Homo sapiens: one gene and its partners. The protein of the gene in region 2 interacts with the protein of the main gene of each other region in a pairwise test. Each region holds a gene or a part of one and is shown on either strand. Other genes may lie near its edges. The genes, in order: HELLS, SERTAD2, PARVG and ZNF524.

Region 1 (7,022 bases), on a different chromosome or scaffold from region 2:
TCTCTCATGGCTATTTCAAATGACGTGATTACCACAGGATGAATCTGCAAAGTCCCTTTCCGTTTGTAAATATTTCTTACCAATTTTTGACGTTCCTCCTGGGTTCCATGATATAACATTGTAGGGATCTGAAAAATTTTATATTGATTTTTATCAGACTTAAGAACAAAATGTAAATATTGACTATTTAGAAAATATAAATCATTCTGAGGGAAAAAATATAATTTTAAAAAATTTTATTTCTATTTTTCTATAGCAAAATAAGCCAAGCAATTCTAACAAATCATTGAACTATTATGGGAGAAAATGAAAAAAAAACAAACAAAAAAACAAAGTCAGGCCCAGCACAATGGCTCACACCTATAATCTCAACACTTTGGGAAGCCAAGGCAAGCCGATCTCTAAAGTCCAGTAGTTCGAGATCAACCTGAGCAACATGGAGAAATCCCATCTCTACAAAAAATACAAAAATTAGCTGGTGTGGTGGTACGCACCCGTAGTGCCAGCTACTCACCCAGTGGAGTGAGATGGGAGGTTCACATGAGCTACTCAGGCGTGTGAGATAGCAGGCTCACATGAGCCTGGGAGGTGAAGGCCACAGTGAGCCAGAATGACGCCACTGCACTCCAGCCTGAGCAACAGAGCAACATCCTGTCTGAAGACAAAAAAAAAGGCATAAAAACAAATAGACGGGCCAGGTGGGATGGCTCATACCTGTAATCCCCAGCACTTTGGGAAGCTGAGGCGGGCAGACCACCTGAGGTCGGGAGTTCCAGACCAGCCTGACCAACATGGAGAAACCCCGTCACTACTAAAAATACAAAATTAGCCAGGCGTGGTGGCGCACGCCCGTAATCCCAGCTACCTGGGAGGCTGAGACAGGAGAATCGCTTGAACCCGGGAGGCGGAGGTTGCACTGAGCCGAGATCGTGCCATTGCACTCCAGCCTGGGCAACAACAGTGAAACTCTGTCATACACACACACACACACACACACACACACACACACACACACACAAACACAACCCCCCCCCCAACAAAAAACCTACAAATACATAAAACACATATAGGCTGGGCGCAGTGGCTCACACCTGTAATCCCACCACTGTGGGAGGCCAAGGTGGGCGGATCACAAGGTCAGGAGATAGAGGCCATCTTGGCCAACATGGTGAAATCCTGTCTCTACCAAAATACAAAAAATTAGCCTGGCCTTGTGGTGTGCGCCTGTAGTCCCAGCTACTACACTCCAGCATGGTGACAGAGACAGACTCCATTTCAAAATAAATAAATAAATAATATATATATAAATATATAAAATGAGACAGATGGTGATACTACGTCTAGAATATATATATTTCTCATAAGGCAAAAATGTGCAGAAGGGCTGGGCCCGGGAGGTACAGTGGCTCACGTCTATAATCCCAGTACTTTGAGAGGCCAAAGTGGGCAGATCTCTTCAGGCCAGGAGTTCAAGACCAGCCTGGCCAACATGGCAAGACATCGTCTCTACTAAAAACATAAAATTAGCTGGGCATGGTGGCACATGCTTGTAATCCCAGCTACTCCGGTGGCTCAGGCACAAGAATTGCTTCATCATGGGAGGCAGAGATTGCAGTGAACCAAGACTGCATCACTGCCCTCCAGCCTGGGTAACAGAGACTCCATTTCAAAAAAAAAAAAAAAAAAAAAAATTGCAGAAGGTAACAAGTACAGAAAAAACAGAAAACTCTCTTCTTAGCCTTTTGGCAAAGATCAAGTGAAGAACAAGCAGAATTTTTAATAAAATCTCTACCTAAGTCTGTCTCAGTCGAATCAAATTACCAATGCACTGAAAATCATTCAGGAATATTTTAGGAAAGATGTCAGGGATTTCCAAAACCTATACTATATAAATTTAAATTAGGGTATTGTGCAGATTGAGTAAGTCAAATCAGACAAAATATTTATACAGAAACCAATATAATTATAAGAGTTCTACAATTTAATTCCTACTACAACAAAGCATAAGAAAACATGTAAAATTATAATTTTAACATAAGGAAGCATGTCTTACATCTGGTGTAAATCTTTTGAATTCAGCCATCCAGTTAGGAAGTGTAGACAAAGGGCCACAGACAAGAAAAGGTCCTGGTACTCCTCTCTGAATCATCAATGCAATAGTAGCAATGCACTGAACTGTCTTACCCAATCCCATTTCATCTGCTAAAATGCCATTAATTCCATTTTCCCAAAGCATCTGGACAAAATAATAGATACTGTATTTAAACTTGGATATAAACAACTACAGGATTACAATATTTTATTTCTTCTCTTTAAAAAATCACACCCAAAGATGAGAATTATGTTAAAGCTGATATATTCACACCATAAATTATAACAACACTGGAAAGTCCTTTATCAAAGCCATAAAAGTGCTGGAAGCCATTAACAAGGTAATTTCTACTTCTAAAAATTCAGGGTAAAGAAATCAGAAAGCAAGTATCCACATACAAATGTATAATAGTGAAACATGATAGAAATGACTCAAGTTGTGGTACCTCAAATCATTAGGCTACTATAGAAATAAAACCAGTATCTTGTATTAAAAATTCCAATTCATTACCCTAAGCCATTCCATGCCTTCTACTTGGTACCATCGCATCACTCCTCCAGTGAAGTGCTTTGGTTGTTGAAAAGGTACTGGCTGACCATTACACTTCCGGACTGGGTCAAAAAAGAATTTAGTATTCTGCCTAACCGTTTCAGACAATCTATCTTTAATTATACTATTCGAATCTTTATTTTTCTGAAGATCTTCCACACAGAGATTAGTAGAGGAGGAGTTTTCATCCTGTAGAGAAAAAAAGTTTAATAAGATGTGTTATACAAAATGCTGCTGTATGCCACCATTTATCAGAAAATGCAACTAACAAAATCTACTGAGTCCTATAATCATTAAGTATAGAAGACTAAGATCACACCTGGATTAAAAAACTGGAGACATCGCCATCCCTCTACAAATGAAAAGCTACTAAAAAAAAAAATAACAGGCTGCCACAGTGGCTAATCCTACAATCACAGCACTTTGGGAAGCTGAGGCAGGAGGATCACCTGAGTCCAGGTATCCAAGACAACCCTGGACAACATGGCGAAACCCTGTGTCTACTAAAAATACAAAAAATTAGCTGGGTGTGGTTGCACGCAACTGCCTGTATCCCAGCTACTCGGGAGGCTGAGGATCACTTAAACCCAGGAAGTCAAGGCTGCAGTGAGCCATGAACACAGCCACTGCACTCCAGCCTGGGTGACAGAAGACTCCATCTCAAAAAATAAAATAAAATAAAATAAAATAAAATATAAAAATCTGAGAATAACCCTTACAAATTAAAATCAGGCACATACTTTTGAAAAGATCATTAGAATTGTATCTCTCTTCCAAACTTCTAATATTGTGATACTCAATAATTTATTAAACTGTTACACAGAAAATACAGTACGCATAAATAAGACGGGCAAAAGATATTAACAGATACTTTACAAAAGAAAACATACAGGCCGGGCATGGTGGCTCACGCCTGTAATCCCAGCATTTTGGGAGGCCAAGGCAGGCAGATCATGAGGTCAAGTGATCAAAACCATCCTGGCCAAAATGGTGACACACTGTCTCTACTAAAAATACAAAAATTAGCTGAACATGGTGGCATGAGCCTGTTGTCCCAGCTACTTGGGAGGCTGAGGCAGGAGAATCGCTTGAACCTGGGAGGCAGAGTTTACAGTGAGCCGAGATCGTGCCATTGCACTCCAGCCTGGGCGACAGAGTGACACTCCATCTCAAAAAAGAAAAAAAAAGAAAGAAAACATAGTTATCAAAGAACATAAAAATATACTCTACTTCAGTAGTAATTAGGAAAATGCAAGTTAAAAACCACACAAGTTACCATTTCTCATCTAATAAAATGGCTGAAATTAAAAAGACTATCAAATGCTGACAATAATGTAAGCTGGAGTTTTCAAACATTGCTGGCGAGAGAATAAAATGATGTGTTTACTTTGGGGGGGAAAATCTGTACTTTCTTATGAACACACATTTGCCACGTAACACAACAATACCATTCCCAGGTACACAGGCAGAAAGTATGAAAACATGTCTACACATGGACTTGTGTGCAAATTATCATAGCAACCTTACTCATAAAAGTCACAAACTGCAAACAACCCAAATGCCCATCAATAAGGGGATGGATGAGAAAATTGTAACATTCATTCAACAGAATACTAGTCAATAAGAAGAAACCGGTTACTAATATGCTCAACAACATAAATGAGTATCACAGACATGTTGAGTGGAAAGGAAATAATAAGCCATCCTATAAAAGGTGTAAAAAGTGGCCTCCTCTGGGTTTGGGGGTGGAAAGACATAGAAGAGATCCCTTTACAATGGAAATGTTCTATACCTTGATTTGGATGGTGGTTACACAAGTGTATGCAAGTGTCGAAATTCATTAAAATACCATACTTAACAACTATTTCTTACTGACTGTAAGTTATAAAATGAAGCCAAAATCCCATAGTAAATTACAGAAGATTACATCTAGACTTTATCTTAAAAATCCAACTAAATGTTTATCTAACTAAATCTTTAAAAATCCAACTAAACTGCACCCATAAACCAGTCCTTAATAACTTAACAAAGAATAAAAACCAAGACACTTTTACAATATAAATTTTGGACAAAATTATATGACCAAATAGATTATCTCTCATTTTATAAACATAACATTAATTTCCCAAAGGCCTAAAAATCTTTAATATGTAAATTAACTACCTGAAGTTCATATCCATTCATGAATATTTTCATGTCATGATTATTTTGCTTCCCTAGGCAACCTTGTAATTTTAAGTACTTGAACAATAAAAAGTCAGATAACAAGGAACCTCTCTACATGAAATGGGCTAAGTGAAGAGGTGGCTCGGAAATCAAGCCTTCTCAAACAGAACTTTTAAGAAACTTAAAAAATCTTTAAGGTCTGAAGCAAGATTAAGGCATCCCTCACAGCTTCCATAAGATGATTCACGGTTTATATCCACATGGTTACGAGCACTTGTATCACTGCCAGATTCACAAGTTAAAAGCAACATTGCTAGACCCATAAATTAACATTTATACATCAAGAATCATGCAATAAAACAACTAACTAAAGTTGATACATAAAAAAGAAGAATGTTGGATATGGAAGAAGTGAATACATAGGTATTTTTTTTTAAAGCAAAGAAACAGGATAATAGTGAGAAGAACGTATACTGCTGATTAAAGAAAAAGGACTAGTAACTGAGGAGTAAATATGACTTCTAAACTTAATCTTACATTATAAATTTCTTACCTCATTCTCCTTTTTATTTTTTTTAGCCACAGACAAAATTTCCTAGTAGTTTGAGAAAACAAAAACAAATTAATAATGTATGAAGTTCATTTATTTATTTATTCAACAAGCATTTATTCTGTGCTCATTTTGCCAGGAAATGAGGATGAGATTCTCAAGATAAAACTAGTAGCCTTCAGGCAGAAATAAGCCTATAGACATTACTGGCTCATAATATTTCATAACATTCTAGGCTAATTTGGGAACACTTATACAATGGGATATTTCATCAAATACAGTGATTTTCCAGCTTTTCTTTCTTTTAATCTGAGTAGATTAAGTACAAATTCACACATGGCAACAAACCTCTAGTCCTGGGGTCAGCAAACTACAGCCTGTAGACCAACTCCAGCTAAGCGAATACACAGGTATTTTTTTAAAAGCAAAGAAATGGGATAAATTGGAACAAAGTCAGCCTCACTTGTTTACGGTTTGTCTATGGCTGCTTTCAAGCAACAACAGCAGAGTACAGGGTTGAGTAGTTGCCCACAAAACTACTCAAAAGCTAAAAATATTTACTATCTGGCTATTTACAGAAAAAGTTTGCCAAACCATGTTACAGCCCACTTTAGGCCTCTGTGGATAGACATCTGAGTTTGCATTCCTGGGTAAGAGGCAAAGACAGAAAAAATTAAAAATACAGAATAAAGTGCTCTGATTTTGAAGTACCTACTAGATGCTGCTGGTAGGGAGACAAACAATACCCGAGTATGTCACTGGATGACTTAGCAAATAATTATCTTACATAAAATTATCTAAAAAGTTGTCACCAGGCTTCATCATTCAAGATAGTGAGGGTAGATTTCAAGCAGAGAGAATATAGAAGGCATAGGGGATGAAGTAGATTCAAAACAGCAATATCAAATTTAAGATTCATAGAAGAGTAACAGGACATGTAAGTGGCTGACACACACACATATATATACATGGGAATATATGTATATCGTGTGTGTATGAAGTATTATGTATGTATAGATATTCATATTATAAGGCTGAGGCTAAAAGGATTTTATACCAGGAACTGATAAAAGCTGTCCTGTAAAATGACTAGATAAAATGAAACTTTTGAAAGAACAATTTGGAAATAAATCAAAATCTATAAATACCACCAATGAAGTATTCTTATTAAAAATCAAGCATGGGCAACATGGTGAGATCCCATCTCTACAAAAAATATAAATGTTGGCTGGGCTTGGTGGTACACGCCTGTAGTCCCAGCTACTCAGGAGGATGAGGTGGGAGGATTGCTTGAGCCCAGCAATCAGAGGTTCAATGAGCCGAGATGGCACCACTGCACTCCACCCTGGGCAACAGAGAAAGATCTTGTCTCCCAAAAAAAAATAAAAATAAAAAAAAAAATAAAAAAACACCTTAATCACAAACTTCCGTATTTAACTTATAGTTACTATAGTTAACAGGAAACACAAGAGGCAGAGAAATCATGGGGATACAATCAGTAAAGTCTAGAATGTGGGGAATTATACAGAATTACTCATTTTCTTCAACAAATAATGTTTCTTAAAAAAGATGAGAGACACTCTAGATCTAAAAGAGACCCAAGATACGCATTAATCAAACACAATTTATGTAACTTTTTCGGATCCTGATTTGAACCAACTATTT
Region 2 (7,471 bases):
TTTGACGAGAACTGGTGCTGATCCTAAATCCGTGACCAGTCAATTAAGAAACTAAAAAGTCATAGATTTATCATGGTTAAGTAATTAATGTGTACAAGATCTTCAAACTCCTAGTCCAGGACTTTTCCTGTCACCAGGCTGGTTCCTGGGGGCAAGAAAGGTCTGTGCAATTTCTAACATTCATTGAAATTTTCTGTGGAAGCTAGAAGTGTGCTCAGTGCCTTGAGAAGAGTGGGAACTTCTCAAGAATGATGGATGGCTTATAGACAGGAATAAATACATAGTCGATGCGTAGAGGCAATGTGTGTTGTGTAGGGAGCTGGGGATGGGAGATGTTTCTGAGAAGTGACCACCAGTCTTAGTGGAGTAGTGTCCCTACAGGAGGGAACCCTGGAGTTGTCAGAGTCACCAAGAAGGTTCTTTGCATTTTGATAGACTGCACAAGGCTTTTGAAGATTCAGTGGAAAATGGAATAGGAAGGAAGCTGATGCCTAACAGAAGCCATCTTCTCCAGTAATAGTTCGAAGGGACTGACCCCAAGTGCTAGAAAAAAAGGAAATGGTTTTAAAAGCATTTTCTTTAAATATTGCCATGAAGATTGTGTTTCAGGTTTAGATTTACATATTGTCAGATTTTTAAAAGAGAAAAAGGTATATCTTTAACAGACAAGTGAAACCTCCCTCAGAAGGTAAGAAGCAGTCGTTGCAAAGCAGTTCAATGTAACAACATGGAAAGCTTTGCAAAGGGGCCTTCACTGGAGCTGTAGTTCTGCTTTTATGAATTGTGACTTCAGGGAGGAGCAGAAAAAAACCATGACAAAAGCAGGTGGAAGAAGAGATGGAGAAAAGTTTGCAGAAGTAGAGGAGTTCACTTGCTGCTTCAATAGAATTGTTTTAAATTGTTAGTGGCTGAAAAGGACTGAATCTGCCTGTGCCATCTTTGCGAGAGTATTTACTTTTCCAAATCATTGTATCCTCTATTGACTCCTTGCTAATCAGTTAGGTGATGTGACTTCCAGAACTTTATTTTGAAGACTTATTCCAATATTCATTTATCCGAATGATGAGTCCACAGTTAGGATCTCCGTATTTTCCATGAAAAGCTTATTTAGCCTAGCTGGCTCTATACAATTCATTTAATAACTGAAACATTTATCTTTTTTGCCATAAAACCAAGACCAATATTTGCAAGGTATATAGATGGATGATCATTACTGGCATTTCAGGTGGAACCTGAAAGATAAAAATTTAATAAAAGCAAAGGAAAAATGAAATTAAGTTCAAAACCTGTTGTAAAGTCTTTGTTTCTCAGTTTATATACCCAGTTTGCCCCTTGTGTTTTTGGTGTGTGCTAATTAAGTGCCAAAAGTGGCCTTCAGTTAGTGCACTAGTGTACTAGTCTATAAGATGTGAGGGCACAGAAACTTTCAAAGGAGAAGCAGTGAAGTGTAAACTAGTACCCAGAACTACAAAATGATGCCGAGAAGTACTTCTCTGAAATTAAACTCAGGAGCATTTTTAAAATTTACCATCACAGTTCTATACTTATAAAAGAAATGTTTCTTTTCTCCCTAAACAGATATGTTCCTGGTAGTTAAATGTGGATGACTAGCCTAATTTCTTATAACTGTTCTAAAGTTATGTTATATGAAAGTGAGAGGCAGATCTTCTAAATTCTGGATGAGGCCCTCAGAGTAGGATTATTTTAAATGGGATTTTGTTTTGAGACAAGATCTCACCTACATTGGAATGCAGTGGTGTGGTCATTGCTCACTGCAACCTTGAACTCCTGGGCTCAAACAATCCTCCCATCTCAGCCTCCTTAGTAGCTAAGACTATAGGCATGCATCACCATGCAGGGCTGATTTTTTCATTTTTTGTGGCGATGGGGGTGTCGCTATGTTGGCCAGAATGGTCAACTCCTGGCCTCAAGTGATCCTTCTATCTAGGCCTCCCAAATTGCTGGGATTACAGGTGTGAGCCACTGCACCCAGCCCTTAAATGGGCTTTTAAATCTCCCAAAGAGTGAGAACAAAATTTACATATTCACTAAACACTGCTTATTCAATGACATGATTTGAAATAATATTTTATTGAATAAATATTTCAAATCATGTCATTGCATACTGAAGGGAGCTGACTTCAGAAGTGTGGAAAGTGCCTTTCCTTATCCTCATAGACTTGAATTTCTAGGGCTGGGTAGAGATTGCTGTCCTGGCCTATGTGTGGCTCAGCCTTGGGGTAGGGGGTTGCATAAGGGGAGGGAGAGGGTTAACCAGCTGGTGTTAACCACATTGGCAGCTGTTGAAACTGCCAGCTCACTTTAACTTCTTGGTCAAAGATGCCAGATTCTAAAAGTGGGGGAAGTGGGAGCTATTTGTAATGTGTACATTGATAAGATGTTACAGCCTTCAGAGGTATAAAGAGATGGAAACTATTTCACTCCAAAAACGCAGGTTGCTGGTCTCGTTAAGAGCGCAAACCTTTGTTTGAGCAGGTACAGAATACAGACCTTATGGACTTCAGCAGAATCCTGTCTATCCTAGTGACACAAAATTGTCACTTTGACTTAAATCCTGTTATTTTATACAGAAACACTGCATTTGGTGTAATCTATTTGCTAGAAAATATCCAAGTGTCACAAAAGTTCTGCAAGTGTAACTTCCTGCTTACTTTAATTCAAGAATAGCAGTTTAAATTCACAAATAGCAGTTTAAATTCACCTTAAATTCAACAGAGCTAATGCCTCTGGCCTCCTCTACAAAGATATCACAGGAAGAGATTATTGCAGCTTCTATTTCAATGGCTTTTCCTTAAAGTGAGCACTGAAAGTATAAGTGAGTGGGTGGTTAGGAAACTGTTAGTAGTTAATGCCCTCTCTAAACTGCAGAACTCTGGAAATGAAAAATATCTTCGCTTCACAGCAAAATGTTTGAATGTTATGCCACTCAGGCGCAAACTGAGCAAGACCTGCAGAGGGCCGGTGAGCACAGCTTCCATAATATGTCATTTTGAATGCCATTATAATGAGACTTTGCAAAGATATCCACAAATAATTAGCTTTTGGCTTAGGTTATACTGTATAAGACTTTAATTATACTGAGGGTCCAGTAAAAACCTTTTCCATCCTCCTTAAAGATAAAACAAGAAGCGTTGTCTCCTCTATCAACATTTCAGCACAAGTTTAATTTCGATGAGATCATCAATTTGATTGATAACAAATCATTACAGAACAGTTTAAACAAGTCTAAATTTCTCTTGATGTTAACGACTTACAATCGCCTTTATGTTAGGTCTTAAAGCTTTATTATTCTTAAATACAACTAGTATAGTGGACCATTAAACTCCAAAGTGATCTGAAATGATATTGATTGGGGTGGCAGCCAAAATTTTAAGGTGCCTGCCTGCATTGCCTTTTACATCTTGACGCTGAATGCACGTGTAATTTTTAAAATAATCATTAATTTTCCAGTGGAACCATCTATCTGGCCTCTTTCCCTAGTGCTCTTAAATTCTCACCATTTGGGCATACACACATTCTCTTCCAACTAGTATAAATTTCCCTGGTAAATTTAAGTAGTTCCAAGCATAAGCTTACTCCACGGGAGGGAAAGGCTATCAATGTGAAACTTGTGGGCAGAGGACTGCGCCTCCGACCTGGCTGCGTCTCCTAGCTTGGCTTCCCTCCTGCCGGGTCTGCACCGAGCCCCGGCCGGCCCCGAAGGATGCAACTCGTTCGGTCCGGCTCCCAAAGTGCCGTGGACTTGGTGACCCACTTCTCGTGTCGGGCTGAGGCCACGCGGGCAAGGGACTTTTTCTGTCCCCGGCTCACGGCTGGAGCCCCCATCCTGCCGTTCGGACCAGTGCGGGCCTCGGAGGAGTGTCCCGCAGCGGACCCCCGCCCAGGAACCCCTGCAGGCAGCGAGACGGGCGCCCGGGCCAGCTCTCTGCCCCTCGCCCCCCGCGGGGACCCTGCCCGCCCCGCTGACCGGCCCCACGTTGCCAAATAGCTCAAATGCTTGTCATATTTGCGGTCGCGCGGCTCCGCGGGCTGTGCACGCGCTGCACTCGCCGCCGCCTTTGTCACCAGCCGCTTCGTCATTCGCCTGAGCACTTCTAGAGTGTGTAGGGGGCGTTACTAGTGGCAGTGGTGGTCCTCGGGCCGGAGTGTCTCCTTCTGTCTCCCCTCCTCTTTCAGCCCGTCCTTACGAGAAAATCAGGGGCGCGCCGGCCCGGCAGGGAGCTGGGGGCGGCGCTGCCACCAGGCGCCCACTGCGCCCCGCCGCCCCTTCCTGCTCCTCCTGCGGCCGCGGCCGGCCGCGGCCGGCCCCGGCCTTTATCGCGCCTCCCGGGACCGCCGGGGAGAGGCGGGCCGGGGCGGGGCCGGCGGGGGCGGGGTCGGGCGGCCAGGGGCGGGGCCTGCGGCGCCGGGGCCCGGAGCTCGCGGGAGGCTCGCGGGCCGCACGTCACTCCTGCACGGCGAGTGCTGGAGCACGACGTACCGCTCGCTCGGTCAGGGCGCCCCCTCCGCCCGCCTCCTGCTTCCTCCTCCGCTGCCTGCCGCCGCCGCCTCCACCATTGTATAATGCTCGGGGCGCGCAGGCAGAGAACGGCGGAGTCTTAGCTTCAGCCTCGCCTGCTGCCCGCTCCCCGGCGCCACCCTCGGGCCCCTGGAGCGGGGCACTCCGCATGGAGCGGGAGTAGCTGAGGAGTGGGCGGAAACCCCTCCTGATGCGTTAGTTCCCAGGTGGAGCTGCATGTGGTAAGTTCTCCCGGCGTCGGGCTGGAGGGGATCCGCGGGCGCGGGGGGCTCCGGGTGGATGGGGGGCCGGTGTTGGGACTCGGCCAGGGCTGGGAGAGCCCGGAGGGCGGAGGAGGGGCCGGGCGCCGCCGCGGGAGGGAGCCGGGGACGGAGCAGGTACGGGAGGAGCGCTCCCTCCCGCGGCCCCGGTCCGGGCCCCGCGCTCTCGGACCCCCGGCGCCTGCGGGCTGAGCCGCTGGGGGGCAGGGCCGGGGTCAGGAGGGGGTCGGGAGCTCGGAGAGCCGAGCGGCGGGCGGGGGCGCCTGGAGCTGTCGCCTCTACAGCTGGGATGTGTGTGCGCGTTGTGGCGGTTGTGTTGTTGTGAACGTGCGAGACTTTTTTTAAGGCTCGGATTGCTGGCGCGAAGGCTGCTTCACTTTTGAGTTCCGTGGCCGGGTTTGCATCCAACTTACTGTAGTGCGTTTTTGTGAATTTCCCGGTGTTTTTTTTAATAATGTTGAAAACCTTCCTCTCCACCCTCTTTTCTTTCGTCCATGCCCAAATGAATTGATTTGGGATCTACATGTATATTAAACTTAACGTCTCGTTGGTTTTTAAGTTAGAAATCTACAAGTCATCTTCGTGGTAACCGCCTATGACTGAAAGGGAGGGGGCTGAGGGGAGCCAGCTGTCCCAAGCCCTAGACTTTGTACCAGTAAGAGAGGGGGTGTCGTCACAGGGCCACTACATGGACAGAAAATCGTATTTTGTTTTGTTTTCTTGGCTATAAGTTACCTTTAGCAGAAGTGGTAGTAATAGATTGCGATGGGAGTCGAGTTTTAGGTTTAGTTTCTAAGTTTCACGAAAATATCAGGTATAGTTTGCATTGGAATAACTTTTTGCTTGCAAGCCGAGTCGTTTCAGGAGGTAGAAAGTAAGTTTTCACAGACACTGAATGGGGAGGACAGTCAGCAGAGTGAGACAGCCAGCCTCAGACCACAGCAGTTTTTATTTGAATCGAATTGGGCAGCCTCAGTTGGGCTTAGGGTAGAGAGTACATGTTTTCAAGCTTTGTTCATGAAATACGCTTTTTGATTTCCCAATGTATGTTAAGAAATATCCATAATGTGTGTAAAGAGGCTAGAAGTTGTAGTCACCAGGATTCCTGAGGCCCTAAGTGTTCACAGTAGCTTTTTGTAGTTAGAGACTAGTCCCTGACAAGAGTGAAGTGGGCTTTGGGCTTCGCTCCGCCCCTGAAGGACCGTCCACCTGAGAGCGTCTGGGCTGCTTGGCCGATGGGGGTTGGGGGTAGTTGCTCAGCTCAGCAGAAGGCATGTCTCACCCTGGCAGCTCCCATCCCTCCCCCTTTTTATAGCAGTCTATTCTGATATGAGTGTGCTAGGGTGTGCTGTGAAGATGAAAATATCCATCCTAAGATCCCAACTTCTGGAGTGAACAAGAATAGTTTGTTTGTGGATCTCTGCTTTTCTGTTTATTTTTTCAGGGTTTTTTTTCTTTTTATTTAAAAGAGACAAATGTTTAAAAGTTTTCCTTTAGCTTCATTGACTTCTTTAGAGGGGTATTATATGTTAATATAAAATTGTTTATGTCGTTCATTAAGTTTGGAATCCTTTAACAGTTTTTTTTTTTTACTTGTTTCACCCCCTAATTAAAATATACATAACCATGTTGTTCTCAGATGAGAAATCTTATTTTGGATTTGACATCCCCCAACCCCCTTTTTCCTTAACACCCGGCCCTTTTCCTTACTTCATTCAGACAGGTAAGGGAGAGGACTCACATTTTGTAAAGCCAACCAAGTGTATGTGTGACAGGAGGTGTCCTAGGGAACGGTTTTATTGTCAGGCGAATGTCACAGCGTCTTAGGTAACAGCTGCTCAAGCTTGTTTCCCTTGAAGAACTAAGAGAAGGATATTAATTCAGATTTAGAAAATCTTTACACTTCTGTTTGCTGAATTGTCCCTCTTTAAAGCTTTTCTATTTAATTGAGAAGCTAAAATATGAATTTTGCCCAGTTGCTACACACTGAATTATTACTGATAATGAGCCTAGTAAAATAGCACATATTTTGATATTTTAAAACTCATTCAAATTTGTGTGGCGACTGATAGCTTATGGTATCTGCTATTTTAAACAGGGTTCCAATGGCAGAGTAAGTTACAACACTACTTTAGAAAGGCACACACATGCATCACACACAAAAAACATTACAAAACGTATGAAGGCAGTTTGAAGATGTTCGAATGCAAATACATAAAAATTTCTATCAACTTGCAGCATGCTACTTTTATTATCAGTGTCCAATTATACTACAAGTTTACCCTCAGACAAAATATTTTACATTTTAGTAACTAAGAAAGGTGAAAGCTGGAACAGAAACTTTGAGAGGTTTCTTTTGCTGTGGTTTCTTGTTAAAAAGCACAGAAAAAAAAGTATGAAGCTTTATTTTATATTTCACATATATCAACAGAATCAAGACCACTTTGTCAATATTACCTGTGGAAAAAGCTATATATAGATAGGCGTATTTGGGGCCATGAACTTTAATTCACTCATAGAATTTTTAAAGCTTCTTGGCAACAGAAATTTTGTATTCACTGTCATGGCATATCCTATAGGAGATAGCTCTAGTTGCAATAGTTACTTGGTGCGTGAGAGAGAGAGCAAGCGCAGGCGCCGTCTCTGATTACTGAGTCCAAAGATCAGTTGT
Region 3 (7,022 bases), on a different chromosome or scaffold from region 2:
GTCTCTGAAACCCATTATTTTACCAAGGGAGAGATACAGATAGAACAGGTAGAATGTAAATCTCAGAAATCATCCTGTTTATACCCACATAAAATATAATAAAACTACAAATCTCTCACTTATTTCATGCCGGCAGCGTGCCAGGTAATATACCAAACACGTGGGGCTCACCAGCTCATGTATCACTCACAATTCTACCAAGTTGCTATCTTGTACCCACTTTATAAGAAGAAGAGCCTGAGGTTCAGAGAAGTCCAGTAACTCACCCAAGGTCACACAGCAAATGTGGAGGGTTCTCAGCAGACCCCAGGGCCCATAAGTGGTGGAGGCAGGAGGGAAATGTGTGTCTGTCTGGCTACAGAGCGTGATACTTCCACCCTGCCATGCTGCCACACCATATCACACACAAACTTCTCACGTGGCCACCATGTGAGGTGGTTATAAGCACTAACTCTGGCCCCAGCTGCCTGGGTTCAAATCCCAGGTCCACTACTTATCACTGTGTGACTTTAGACAAGTTAATTAACCTCTCTGTGCCTTAACATCCTCCTCTGTAAGTGGGGTAGTACAGTTCCCACTTCAGAGGATTATGGAGAGGATTCAATGAGTTAACATGGAAAGCATTTTGCCCTGGGACTGGCACATAGTGAGGGCTTTATTGGTTTTAGCTACTAGGCATGGGAGTACATTAACCCCTCCCTCCCCAGCCAATGCCCATCCAGAGTCTCTCTGAGAGGTCAGCAGCTCTGGCTACGATCTTCATGAGCCAACTGGTCCATCTGGGACCAGACTCCCTCCCCACCCCAGACCCCAGCACCCAGCAGAACCCAGGTGGCCAGATGCCTACGTCATGTCCCATTCAGGCCACTGGCATCCAGCAGACTCCATGCCCACTCTGCAGGCCCCGGGCTGGCAGCCGGTCTGCTACTGTGCACCCCCTGCTCCCCTGCAGTGTGGGAAGCCTACAGGGACACAGCTTCACTGTGGAAAGCCACAGCCCATGGTGGGTGCTGACCCCCTGAGATTCTGCTCCTGCTCCTGGGAAAATTCGACTTAAGTCAGCCGGGGGAGGGGCTGGGCTCCTCAGGGTGCTTGTGAGAGACATGGAGCCTGCAGACGGCTGGGCTGCGCTGTCACCTACGCCTGGCACATGGGACAAATCTAATAAATTCTGTTTGGGCGAACACAACCACGCAGGGAAGACTCATATGCTTCAAGTCTTGGCATCAGCTAGTCTGAGATTAATTATAAAATAAAATTATAACAATGAGAAGCAGTGACAGCCGAGGTGACTCCAGCTTTGTGAAGTGTTCCCACACCTCCACCCCCGGGATCCCACCATGTCCCTGGTGACCACTGCTGCCTGCCAGCAACAGTCCCACCGGGGAGGGGGACCCTAAGGCTCCAAGAGGTGATGCAACCCCCACCACACAGCAGGTTCCCAGGGCCTGCAGAACCCTCTTTCCTTCCTACGGCCAGTGGCCCTGCCCTGCCTGGGGACGCCGCAGCTCAGTCCCTACCTGGGTGTCCAGATTCTGCACAGACAGGCCCAGGCGGTCCAGCTTCTGGTTGACAAAGTTCACGATGGCCTAACCAGGGAAGAACAAGGGCCTAGCACACAGCAGGTGTGATGGGAGGACCCGTGATTCCCTCCTACAGCGCAGGTGGGCAGTGGGTGGGGTGGGCAGCCTGAGAGCCGCTGAGAGCTTTGATCTCTCCTACCTCTTTCACTGCGTTCACTTTCTCCGGAGCCAGCTTAAATAATTCATCAAAGACGTCCTCTGCAGACACAGATCCAATAAACACCTCATTACGATGCTATTATCTTTGTGCCAAACAGGGAATTTTTTTTTTCACAAAAGTTTCTTAGAATAACCAGTCCAGAGGGAGCTGTCGTTTTACATCATGGTTCTCAAATAAAACAGACCTGGATTTGAGTCACTGCTCTCCTGGCCGTGTGGCCCCAGGGGAGTCACCGTCTCTCTCTGTGCCTCCCTAGCTGGGGTTGTTGCAGAGATGGAATTCCATAGCAGATAACACACATGGCCCCATGGCACAGTGACTGGGCACACAGTAGGACTTCATAAACAGCCACTCTTCCTGCAGCTGACACCTGTTACTACATCTGCACAGCTGCATCCCTTTATCTGCCAGCTGGCACTCCCTCCTCCCAGGGCCCTACTCCACTCCCCAGGGCCACGGGAGCTGCCACAGGTGGGTGATCAGGGTCCATGAGTCTCCTCCCCTTGGTTTTAAATTGGCTGAGTGAGGACTGCTCCCTGCTGCCTCCCCCCGCCCCCAAGAGTGTCTGAACCTGCTGCCTGCAAAAGGCCAGCTCTTCAGCAACTCAGTCACTCCCTTGGGGTCTGGGAACAGCGGCTCAGGCCCTGGGGTCCAGCCTCGGGTGCCCATGTCCTCAGGCTAATGCCCTTTGTGCACTAGCTGGATTCCTGCTATTTGCAGCTAACATACCTCCCATGGGGACACTGGTCCTTGGGCACCAAATACACAGACTGGCCTGAGTTTGCTGTGGCTTCTGCCACTCAGCAGCTGTGTGACTCTAAGCAAGTCACAGCACCTCTCTCTGTTTCAGTTCCCTTGTTAGTGAAGGGGGAAAAGTAGCACCAAATAGCATCATGCACGTTAAAATGCCCCTGCTCTGTGTCCTTTCTTCACCCTCTGACACCCACTTCTCATGCTGCCCCCTGCCCAAAATACTGCTCCCTGGGCAACCCCTCATGTCCTCAGGCTGCCCCTCCTGCTACATACACAGATCCTCAGCCAGCCCTCCTTGCCCCTCCTTTCTCCTTTCTCCCCAAACTCCGCCTTCCTCAGCCCCCATTCTCAGAAGCTCCTGGCAGGTTATTATCTCTACCTCTGCAGGGAAGGTGCCCCTCATAGCATCCCTGCCCACATAGCTATGTGTCTAAGTGGGGAGGGTATAGGGAGGAAAAATAGTGTTAGGATGGATGGATATGGGTGAATACATAGGTGGTTGGATGGGTAGATAGATGAATGGGTGGATGAATAGGTGGGTAGGTGGATAGATGAATGGATGGATGGATAGGTGTGTGGGTGGATGGATGGATAGATGGATGGATGGATGGATGAATATATGGATAGGTGGGTGTATGGATGGATGGATGGATAGATGATGGATGGGTAGGCGGATGGATGAATGGAAGCATGAATGGATGGATGGAGGGATGGATGGATGGATGAATGCGTGGATAGGTGGGTGGGTGGATGGATGGATGGATGGATGGATAGGTTGATGGATGGATAGGTGGATGGATGGATGGACAGGTGATGGATGGGTAGGTGGATGGATGAATGGAGGCATGAATGGATGGATGGAGGGATGGATAAATGGATGGGTGGGTGGATAGATGAATGGAAGAATGGGTTGATGGATGCATGGGTGTATGAATGGATGGATGGATAGGTGGGTGGGTGGATAAGTGGGTAAGTAGATAGATGAATGGAAGAAAGGATGGATCAATAGATGGATAAATAGATTAATGGATGGGAAGGGGAAGAGCTGGCCAGACCAGTGACAAAGGAATGGATGCATGAAAGAAGTAACAACTAGAACAATCAACTGATTGGTGAACAGCTCTGTCAGAAGAGCAGAAGCCACATTATTGCCCACTCACTATTGAGCACTGCCCACATGCTGAACACACTCATACATTATCTCCTTTAACCCTCACTGCCAGTTTAAAAGGTGAGTGCCCTTTTATAGATGAGGAAACTGAGGCACGGACAAGTTAAGATACTTGCCCAAACTTAAGTGGCTAATGAGTGGGAACACTGGTGTTTGAACCCAGGCCACTGACTCCAGAGCCCACACATTTAACAGACTCCACCATCACTGCCCATGTGAATTATAAATCTCTCTCCCCACAGGAACAGTATCATGAGAAGGAGCAGCCAGCTCCATGGATGGACAGACAGAAAGAGGGACAAATGAATAAGAATGAGGCTTGAGATACAAACAGCAAGTGACAGGGAAATGAGAGAATGCTCAGCAATTAACCCTGCATTAAGACTTGTCTGCATTAACACGCATCAGATAGGAACAGATTTCCAAAAATGATGAAAGTACTCACTTGGAGGCTCGTCCTTGTCTGTGCTGTGCAGTGGGTGGAAAAAGCAAACAAATGGTTAAAAAAAAAACACCCCGCAAACCTACAATTTCTCAATATGACAAGCCTCAGTGCTGGCAAGGTTGCAAAGAAACTGGCATGCTTGTGGTTTTCCTGGCAGCTTTGTAGGTAGGGCAGATAGCAGAGAAGGTCTTTGTGGGAAGCAAAGGGCAGAAACAGGTTCATGCCCTTCCCTGAGGCTTCCACACCTAGAAACATTTGGACTTTGCTGGTTTTGTTGTTCGTGTTCTGTTCTGAGGGAGATACATCACACACATCATAAAGTGCACAAATCGTAAGCTCACAGCTTGTGCGTTTTACACATACACACCTGTGTGATCACCCCCACTTACATGCTGCAGAACCTCCCAGCACCCCCCGTGTTCTCCCTTCCATCCTCTCCCTCCCTACGCTGACCACAGCTGCGATTTCTCTTGCCATCTGTTGGTTTTGCCTGTCCTGGAAGTTCATGGAAATGAAACCATACTGCGTGTCCTCTTTTGGGTCTGGCTTCTTTCACTCCATTTTTATTGTTTTTGAACAATTTTTCTTCTTCTTTTTTTTTTGGTCACGTTTTTAGATCCACCTCTACCCCATAGAAGAGAAGTTCTGTAGGTCCAGGGCAGGCCAAGTCTCTCTAACCACAGCCCTCCAGAAGAAAGCTGGGGCCCACGGGGCAGAGCCCAGCAGCCTGTGACAGAGACCTGGGCTCAGCACAGAGGCCAAGGCTGCCAGGAGAGACAGACACCATGTGCTGTCCACACAGCTCCAGCCCCAGCCAAGCCTTCAGAGGATGGCAGCCCCACCTGGCCAGCATCTTGGCTGCATCCCTGTGAGAGATCGTGAGTTAGCGCCACACAGAAGCCAGCAACGGTGGACCTGTTGGCAGCCTGTGCAGCCCCTGGGCCCATCCCTCTCCAGGCCCCACCTGTTCTGCTCCATGGGGAGCAGGACAGCCATGCTCCCAGTGGGCGGGGAGCAAGATGGCCAGCCCTAGTGGGTGGGGAACAGTATGGCCAGCCCCAGTGGGCAGGGAGCAGGATGGCCACACCCCCGGTGGGCAGGGAGCAGTATGGCCAGCCCCAGTGGGCAGGGAGCAGGATGGTCAACCCCAGTAGGTGGGGAGCAGGTGGCCATGCCCAGTGGGCAGGAGGTAGGATGGCCACTCCCCAGAGGGCAGGGAACAGGATGGCCATGCCCCAGTGGGCAGGGAGCAGGATGGCCACACCCCCCAGTGGGTGGGGAGTAAGACAGCCACACCCCCAAAGTGGGCGGGGAACAAGACAGTCACACCCTAAAGTGGGCAGGCAGCAAGACGGCCAGCCCCTGGCCATGCAGGGGCCTCTAACTCTTACAGCTTTGCAAGGAAAGAGGAACATCCTGCTCACACTAGAGAGACAGATTCACTGGGCCCTGTACCCCAAACCCAGGGGCCCCCACCCTAGAAAACAAAGCAGGGTGGCTGGGAGGGGCCAGGCAGGGACCTGGTTGGAGGCTAGAAAGGGGTCCTGTGTGCTGCCGTGGGATTGAGAGGTCAGCGCAGCATTTTCGGGTCTGAGAGAAAGCCACAGAATGTGAGGGCCCTTCCCACAAAGGTCAGGCAGATCTGCCCTGGCCCCCACCCTGCCCCCATCCACCGCTGTGAGCCCCAGCCCCACCCATGGGCCCTCATCCTTCCCTCACCTGTATTCAGTGAGCTGTTCCACCAACTTCTCTGACTTCAGACCACTTTTGGTGCTCTAAGAAAAATAAAGGGGGAAGAAATTAAATAATCCAGAAAACTCTGGGGCCCAAAGAAGCCCCAGTGATCCGTTTGCTCTGTATCATCCCTCCTCAGGACAGCCTCTGGCTTAATTGTCTTTCTTCCCCAGGAGTCTTGAGGTTGGGGATGTGTCTGCCTCACTCCCCAAGGCATCCCCAGAGTCTCACAGTGGGAGGAGGGCAGTATCAATGAGCATGTGACTATGAACAAATGAATGGTGAAGGAGTGAATCAATGAAGTCACTTCTGATTTATGTTGGCAGTATAGACCAAGCCACACAACTGCTTGGTAGGGAATTATAATCAATGGTTTTAAAAAACAGTAGAAAGCCGGGTGTGGTGGCTCACGCCTGTAATCCCAGCACTTTAGGAGACTAAGACAGGTGGATGGCTTGAGCTCAGGAGTTCAAGACCAGCCTGGGCAACACGGTGAAACCCCATCTCTGCCAAAAATACAAAAAATTAGCCAGGCACAGTGTCTCAAATCTGTAGTCCCAGCTACTTGGGAGGCTGAGGTGGGAGGATCACTTGAGCTGGAGAGGCAGAAGTTGCAGTGAGCCAAGATTGTACCACTGCATTCCAGCCTGAGCAATAGAGCAAGACGCCATCTCAAAAAAAAAAAAAAAAAAAAAAAAAAATAGAAATGACTCTGACTGGGTGTGGCCAAACTTGGCTTATTCTCTTGGGGCGAGTCAGAGGCAAGCCCTCACACACAAAGCCCCTATGCATGAGGGACCCGAGGCTGGGGTGGGGTGGGGGCGGTCATGAGAAGCAAAGAGCTGGTGGGGCCCCCTATTGTGATGCTCAGAGTCTGTCTGGAGAGGGAAGTCGTGGATTCCTGGGTATTAACCGCAGCACAGGCAGGCCGCATGCTAGACAGAACATCTGAGGGTGGGGAAACCCGGCAAGGTTCCTAGAAAGAGAACAGGGCACTGTCACAGCCATCGGTAATCTCACAGGAGACAGTACCCTCATGGTGAGAGCATTGGTTTTGCTCAGGGCGTGAAGGCTCCCCGTGGCAATGAACGGACGGCCACGCATGGCTCAGGGATATGGCCTGACAGCCCCTGGCCTCAGCCTCTGCCAGCCAGATGCCCTCTGCTGAGGTCAAGT
Region 4 (7,581 bases), on a different chromosome or scaffold from region 2:
CTGCTTTGCTTCCTTGAAAGTACACATTTTGTTCCCTGGATCCGGAAAGCCTCGGACCCCAGAGGCAGATCATTCCTCACCTTTTTCTCGGGAAAACCATCCCTGACCCCATCCCCGATCCAGACTGCTTCAGCTCTCTCTTGCATTAGCCTCAGAATATGGTTATCCTCCATCCTCAGATGTCTCGGCTGCAGCCTAACATTGATTAACCTAGTTGTTCAGTTCACATCTCCCACATTTGACTCGAGGCCATACAAAGGGTGGACTGTATCTGTTTTGTTCCCTTAGCTATTTTTTTTCCCCCAGAGAGCCTAGCACTGTATCTAAATACAGTAGGTGCTCCTGAAATGGTTCAGTTGAATCACAACCTACTGGTGGGTGGGGGTGAGGCCCCTCAGGGGACTGTCAATTGTTGCATCAAGCTAAGGAGCTCCCCTTTCATCCTAAGGATCAAGGGATTTAAGCAGGGGTCACCTGGTCACTCTGTGATAGATGCAGAGACTGGATGTGAGGGAGAGAGACAGGAAGGAGGGAGACCACTGAGAAAGCCGGGGCCAACATTCAGGATGTGAAGTCCTGAACCAAGGCAGATGCATGGGGACAGAGAGGACAGCCAAGTGTGAAAGACCATCGGTAGATGCCTGGTTTTCTTCACCCTGGTTGTGCAAGTGTCTGGCACATAGACAGAGTGTGACCTAGCCCGTCCCATCTTTCACCTTACCTCCTTCCACCCCAACCCCACAGTCTCCCATCGCTTCCTGGAACACAGCACACTCCTTCCTTCCTCAGGGCCTTTGCACTTGCTGTTCCTGCTGCCTGGAATGCTCTTCCCAGGGAGGATTCCTCACACTGCAGGTTGGCTCAGGTATCACCTGCCCTAACCTTCCCCACCTGTCTGAAGTAGCCCATAGCTCTCCTCTCTTTACTCTCACACATTGATTTGTATTTTTTGTTTGTTTGTTTGTTTGGAGACTGAGTCTCGCTCTGTCGCCCAGGTTAGAGTGCAATGGTGCAATCTCACCTCACTGCAACCTCTGCCTCCCGGGTCCAGGCGATTCTCCTGCCTCAGCCTCCCAAGTAGCTGGGATTACAGGTGCATGCCAACACGCCTGGCTAATTTTTGTATTTTTAGTAGAGACAGAGTTTCACCATGTTGTCCAGGATGGTCTCGATCTCTTGACCTCATGATCTGCCCACCTCGGCCTCCCAAAGTGCTGGGATTACAGGTGTGAGCCACTGCGCCTGGCCAGTATTTTTTTGTTTCTTAAAATTTCCCTCCTATCTTTTTCCAGAACATTCTTGCCAGCATACTTGCTTTCTTGCTTCTTGTCTACTTGGCTACTGACCACCTCCAAAAGAAAGTAAGTTTTCTGAAGGCATGGAATTTGCTTTTGCCTTGGCAACACAGCCGTTTGGTGCAGGGAAAGCTGATAGTCAATGAATAAAGGAATTAAGTATATAACTGATAATCAATGAATAAAGGAATTAAGTATACACCTGATAAACCTAAGTCTTAAAACGGTAAGGAAGGAAAGGATAAACACTAGATTGCAGATGCTGGTGCGTGCACGCGGGGTATTGGCAGGGAGATGGGGCGGGCAGGAGCCTATAGATGGGGAAATTTACTATGAATGTTCCAGTTCGTGGGTTGCTGGTGACTGAATGAGAAATAGCGCATGCTTTCAAGGGTCAGGGTGCTTTGGTAGGGAGGGAGGGACATTTTCTAATGGGAGGAGGCGGGCGCCTAGGCCTTGGGCCAGCTTCCTTTTGCCCAGAGTACAGTGGGGCGCGGGATCCCACCGTAGTCCTGACCAGGGAGGCCAGCCTAGGGCCGGCCTGTGGGACTCACCTGGTGGTGCAGCAGGCCGGTGGAGTCGCGGAACCCCTTGGGGCAGGCAGAGCAGCGGTAGGGCCGCTCCCCGGTGTGCGAGCGCAGGTGGTTGGCTAGGTTGAAGCTGTGCTTGAAACCCTTGCCGCAGCGCGGACATGCGTGGGGCTTGAGCGCTGTGTGCCGGGCAAAGTGGCGCCGCAGGTCTGAGCGGTAGCGGAAGCTCTTGCCACATTCACTGCAGTGAAACGGGACCCTGGGGGCGGCAGCGGCGGGCGGTGCTGGTGCAGGGGTTGGGGCGGGGACGTCATCCATGGTGGCGGGGAATACAGTGGTATGTGGGGGCTCTCTCTGGAGTAGTGGGGAGACAGAGGAGCAGGTGAGGGGGTCGGCTCCCCATCAGCTCTCTCCTCCCAGGTTCCCAGACCCACCACCTGTCCCCTGGGAGACCCTCCCACTGCCCACCTCTCTAAGCCACTCTCATTGTTCTTTAAAATCCTCCTACTCTCTTAGAAACCCTTCTCTCGCGGCTCCACGCCTGTGGCAAAATCTTCCTAATCACTTCATAGTCTCCTCACTCCACGGAGTGTTTTTAAGCCTCTCCTCGCTCTTCGCCAATGCGCGGCCACTGCTCTCTGTGCCCCTCCCACTGTAATTTAAGCCTCTCCCACTCTTCCTTAAGTCCCACCTACTCCCTTCAAAGTCCCCCACAATGTTCCCTAAGGATCTTGTATTCTTTGCCAAGCCCTTTTCCTTCCAAAAGGCCCTCCCACTCCCCTCTAAGCTCCTCCCACTCCTCTTCCAGGATGACCACTTAGCGAATGGGAGGGCAAAGATTTGGGGCTAAGCACACTGGAGTCATCCTTGCAGGGAGACCAGAATTACTCCTGTAACATCAGATAATAAAAATTCTTCATCTGTAAAATGGGAATAGTAGTACCTACCTCATGGAGTGGTGGCGAGAATTAAGTAAAATTGTGGCAATAAATGCTACGTGCCCACTTAAGCTGGTGCACAGCAAAGACGCAACAAGTAAGCTGTTTGGATGACTATTATCCCGTAAGTTCCTCCTGGATTCCTCCTTAAGTCCTACCATGATTGCTAAGTTATTTGACTTATCTAAGCCCCTCTCGGGTCCACTAAGACCCACTTCCAAAACTCCACCCAATTTTTCCTTTAAAGAAGCCACATCCTTTCTAAGACTCTCCACTGGACTCCCGTCACCTTCTCAGGCCTTCTCTACGAAGTCTATTCCCATCCCCTGCAAGTCCTTTCCACATTCATTATAAAGACCTGATAGTTGCATTAAACCCCTCCAAATTACACCCTTAAACTCCACCCCCCTCACTAGGCCTACCTACTTCTCTAAGCCACACCCCAGACAAACTCCATCCCTTCTACTCTAAACTCCTCCCTCCTGCTTCCTGGGCTCCCTTTACCCAACCAGCCTCAATGAGTTTCCTTCCACCCCTCAATCCAGGGCCTACCCACCATTCCTTCTGAGCCACGCCCCTTTATCAAACCCCACCTCTTTGCCTAAGACCCTCCCATTTTCTATCCAGACTCTCCCTCCTCCACGCCCCTCCCACTTCCACTCTAAGCTCCGCCCAACTCAGGCTCCTCCCAGCCCTTGCTCCGCCCCAGCAGCCACTAGGCCCCGCCTCCTCCTCCACCCCGCAGCCTGAGGAGCGGGCCCCCCCACTTGCCCAGTCTGCTCCAGGCCCCAGGCCCCGAGAGCCGGCCTTTTGTGCCCCTCCCCCTGCCCCTAAAAGGTGCAGCCCTGGGCGCCCGGTTGGGGGGCAGGTCGGGCAGGCCCCGGGGCCAGGCGAGTCCACCTCGCTCGTACGGAGCGTTGGTCCTGGAGACCCGGGGCGGCCCCGGGAGGCCGGGGAAGTCCGTCGGCTTTCCTCTTTAATTACTTACACCTCCCTCTGGGCGCCGACATTTTGGGCAGCGGGGGCAGCGTCACTTCCACCCGGGGGGCCCCTCGACTTCCGCCTCAGCTCCCTTCCCCCGCCGTACTCCCCCTTTCTCCCGCCCTCTTGGCTCCCCTTCCTCATCCCCGCCCTTCTCCCTCTTTCCCTTTCCTTTCCCAGCCCTGGAGGTTGAAGAAGCCAGGCCCGCGCCATCTTGGGTGAGGGCAGCGGGAAGGGGCGGGGCTTAGGGACACCCACGGCGCCATACAGACTAAGGGCAAGGAGCTGAGAGCGAGGGGGCTTCTCCGTGGCGACACTAGGCGATGCTAACGTAAATGAGAGCAGATACTATTTCTTTTTCACAGCCTCGGACTCCTCCGATTAGGATGTACAGTTGGACTAGGGAAAAAAAAAGAAAGCGAAGTGCGCCAACTGCAATACAGAGCTGGAAAAGACCGGCACCATCTTATCCACTTAGCACTCCATGGGCTTCGAAGCCTGTCCGGTGCCATGTTAATTACGGGCACTGGGCAGCCATTTTCCCGCTCCTCATCATTCGGTATCTGTCTTTGGGTCACCCGACTGTGGGCTTTGTGAGAGGAAAGGCGTTTCGAGGTGGTTGGGGATGTGGTGCTGGGTTATTTCCCACTGGGGACACACCAGGGCCGCCGGTGCGCAGGCGCGGCTTCCGGGCGTGGCCGCGACCGGTCGTTAGGACCCAGCGAGTCCCCTTTGTTTCCCGCGGGCGCGCAGGCGGGCGGGAAGGGCAGGAAGGGAGGGGCCCGGCGCTTCTCCGAGGGGCGGGGCCGGCACCGCGCGCCGCCGCCCCCGCCTCGCCGCCGCCGAGGGGCAGGGCCCCCTCACCCCCTCCCCTTCCCACGCGCCGGCCCCGTTGCCCCCGCGCGCGCGCACACTCGCGAGCCCCGGCGACATGCAAATGAGGTACCCGAGAGGCGGGGGGCGCAGGCGGGAGGGGGGGTGTGGGGGTAGGGGAGGCCGGGCCGCGCGCTCCCGGAGCGCGCCTCCAACACCTGTTCCTGCTCCCGCGCTCGCGCCCCGCGAAGCCGTCCGGGCGCGCGCGCGCAGACCCCCTTCCTGGCAGCCCCCGCCGCCCGCTTACCCGGCGCCGCTCATTGGCCGTCGCCCCCGCAGGGCCCGCCCCGCGCTTGGGCTTCGCAGCTCGGGGGCCGATGGGCGCGTCAGTACCGGGGCGAGGGGACGGGGAGGGTCGGGGGACCAGTCTCCCCCTTTCCACCGTTCCAAAGACCAGACTCCTAGACTAGGCTACCCCGTGGGAGCGAACCGTATGGAAAGGTGGTTGCTCCTCTCTGGACAGCAGTCTATGTGGCTGTTAAAGGGGAGGGGGGGGTGCAGGGGGGCACCTGCAGCACCTGCTTCCAGCTGCACCTGTGCCTCCCCTTCCCCTCCGTTACACCCCAATCCCATGCTCCCAGTATCTGAGTGGGCGCCGGGAAGATGGTGGTGGCGTTGGTGAAGTTTATTGAGTGCTTACTGTGCACCAGGCAGTGTTCGAGGGGCATTTTAAAGCCCACTGTCTTATTCGATTCTCCTGACAACCCTGGTTTATTCACTTTTCAGAGGAGGAAACTGGCAAAGTCAATTGCTAGTTATAGGCAGAGCTGAATTCAAACCCAGGACTGAGCCCTCGTAATGTCCCCTTTCCTCCTTGGGTTTATTTGTTCTCCATTCTCTGGGACATTCGGGTCACAAGACCTGTTTCCAGTTTTGGCCCTGCCATTTACTGGCAGAGGAACTTAGGCAACTGACTTGGCTTTCCTGTGCCTCAGTTTCCCCATCTGCAAAATGGGACAGATATGCCCTATTCAGAGGGTTGATGTGAGGCTTAGCTGCTCCTGATAACAATGGCTAATGTGTCCTGAAAGCTTCTGTGTATGAACACTTTGTGGGTATTATGCTCATGGCATGTCTGGGCAAGTACGTAGAACTATGTGTCCCATTTTGCAAAAGTCTTGATTAAGGCTTAGAGAAGCGAACACCTTGCCCAAGGCCACGCAGAGAGTAAAGATTTGAACGAATGATGTCTTGACTCCAGGGCCCAGGCTCTTAACATCGCAGATATGTTTCCTCATCCAGGAATCAGGGTCAAATATCACCTGGGACCAGTCCCTTTTTTCCACTCTGGAACCCCTTCCCCACTTCTGCCAGTCAGCAGGGAGGGATGAGAGCATTCGTGAGGCCTCTATGGCTCTGGAGTTTGATGGGCTCTCCGTTTCAAGGATCACAATACTGGTCTGCACTCTCAGTTGGACTCTATCCTCTCTGGAAGGTTTTTTTTTGTGGGGAGGTGGGGAGGGGTGTTGCTCATGTTGATCTTGAACTTCTAGATCCAGAAGGAGAGTTAGGGAGGCATAGGGATGTCTGGTGGAGCTCAGGGAAGTGCCTGTTTATCAGCTGATACAAGATCATCTCACTGTTTTACCCACCAGCATAGCTAAAATTGTGTATCTGGATGAATGTCAAACACACCTTTGTCAAGAGACTTGGAGAGAGGGATGGGCGAGGTGTTGGGGGACACAGGGGTGCTCTAGACCCTGTGAGCACTGACTCTGCCCCTCTCTCCTCTTAGCTGGCTCCAGTGCCCAGACCCAAGCCCCCCACTGCTCAATGGACACCCCCAGCCCAGACCCGTTGCCTTCGCCTTTGCCCGGGGAGGAAGAGAAACCTCTGGCCTTATCTCCTCCTGTTCCCCGGGGCCGCCGAGGCCGTCGTCCTGGGGGAGCCACCTCCTCAAATCGGACACTCAAGGCCTCCCTCCCTCGCAAGCGGGGCCGCCCCCCCAAGTCAGGGCAGGAGCCCCCACTGGTGCAGGTGCAGGGGGTGACAGCCCCAGTAGGCAGCAGTGGCGGGAGCGACCTCCTCCTGATCGATGATCAGGGTGTGCCCTATACGGTCTCTGAAGGTTCAGCGGCTGGGCCTGAGGGCTCTGGCCCCAGGAAGGCCCCACACTTCTGCCCGGTGTGCCTGCGGGCCTTCCCCTACCTCTCCGACCTGGAGCGCCACAGCATCTCGCACTCAGAGCTGAAGCCGCACCAGTGCAAGGTTTGCGGCAAGACCTTCAAGCGCTCCAGCCACCTGCGGCGGCACTGCAACATCCATGCCGGCCTGCGGCCCTTCCGCTGCCCGCTGTGCCCCCGCCGCTTCCGCGAGGCGGGCGAGCTGGCGCACCACCACCGCGTGCACTCGGGGGAGCGCCCGTACCAGTGCCCCATCTGCCGGCTGCGCTTTACAGAGGCCAACACGCTCCGGCGCCATGCGAAGCGCAAGCACCCGGAGGCCATGGGGGTACCCCTGTGTGCACCAGATCCAGGGTCTGAACCGCCGTGGGACGAGGAGGGCATCCCGGCCACAGCAGGGGCCGAGGAGGAGGAGGAGACAGAGGGGAAAGGGGAGCCGGCCTGACCCACACCCCCGGCCATCGCTCCCTGGGCCAGGTTTAGAGCAGGGAGTTTGGCTGGTGCTGGGCCTGAGCCAGGGGGCCGGGACACCCTTGTTTCCGGTGGTCTTCCCGTTGTGGGAGCAGGTGGAGGGTGGAGACCTAAACTTTGGGGTCCAGCTGCCTTCAGCCCCCCTCCCCCAGACTAACAGACCCTTGGAGGCAGGGGCTGTGGAAATAAATCTCTGCCTGCTGGCTGCCTGTGTGTGTTCCGTGCCGGGATGCCATCCTCTCCTGCCTTCAAATGTTCTTCCTCGGCTACACCGTCCTGTCGGGAGTGCGGGGAATTGGAGAGGACCCCACTTCCTGTGCCTCATGAGCGTGGTGCTCGCCAAAGAATGGTTTTGGGGGGAACCTTGGCC

The links.
Region 1: the proteins of SERTAD2 (region 2) and HELLS interact in binary tests that used the Homo sapiens proteins (3 or more experiments, as listed by UniProt).
Region 3: the proteins of SERTAD2 (region 2) and PARVG interact in binary tests that used the Homo sapiens proteins (3 or more experiments, as listed by UniProt).
Region 4: the proteins of SERTAD2 (region 2) and ZNF524 interact in binary tests that used the Homo sapiens proteins (3 or more experiments, as listed by UniProt).

What each region holds. Positions count from the first base shown.
Region 1 is NC_000010.11:94,569,768-94,576,789, reverse strand, and holds part of HELLS (lymphoid-specific helicase), read right to left. Parts: exon of another isoform or gene 5,403-7,022; coding exon 5,361-5,402; exon of another isoform or gene 2,831-5,360; coding exon 2,603-2,830; intron 2,237-2,602; coding exon 2,054-2,236; intron 129-2,053; coding exon 1-128. UniProt on the Homo sapiens protein: Plays an essential role in normal development and survival. Involved in regulation of the expansion or survival of lymphoid cells. Required for de novo or maintenance DNA methylation. May control silencing of the imprinted CDKN1C gene through DNA methylation.
Region 2 is NC_000002.12:64,650,910-64,658,380, reverse strand, and holds the start of SERTAD2 (SERTA domain-containing protein 2), read left to right. Parts: upstream 1-4,467; 5' UTR 4,468-4,761; intron 4,762-7,471. Other genes in the region: uncharacterized protein LOC124907776, read right to left, coding at 3,670-4,101. UniProt on the Homo sapiens protein: Acts at E2F-responsive promoters as coregulator to integrate signals provided by PHD- and/or bromodomain-containing transcription factors.
Region 3 is NC_000022.11:44,190,914-44,197,935, reverse strand, and holds part of PARVG (gamma-parvin), read right to left. Parts: intron 5,888-7,022; coding exon 5,832-5,887; intron 4,136-5,831; coding exon 4,113-4,135; intron 1,782-4,112; coding exon 1,723-1,781; intron 1,590-1,722; coding exon 1,521-1,589; intron 1-1,520. UniProt on the Homo sapiens protein: Plays a role with ILK in promoting the cell adhesion and spreading of leukocytes.
Region 4 is NC_000019.10:55,595,723-55,603,303, forward strand, and holds ZNF524 (zinc finger protein 524), read left to right. Parts: upstream 1-4,565; 5' UTR 4,566-4,686; intron 4,687-6,352; coding exon of another isoform or gene 6,353-6,390; coding exon 6,391-7,185; 3' UTR 7,186-7,416; downstream 7,417-7,581. Other genes in the region: FIZ1 (flt3-interacting zinc finger protein 1), read right to left, coding at 1,850-2,143.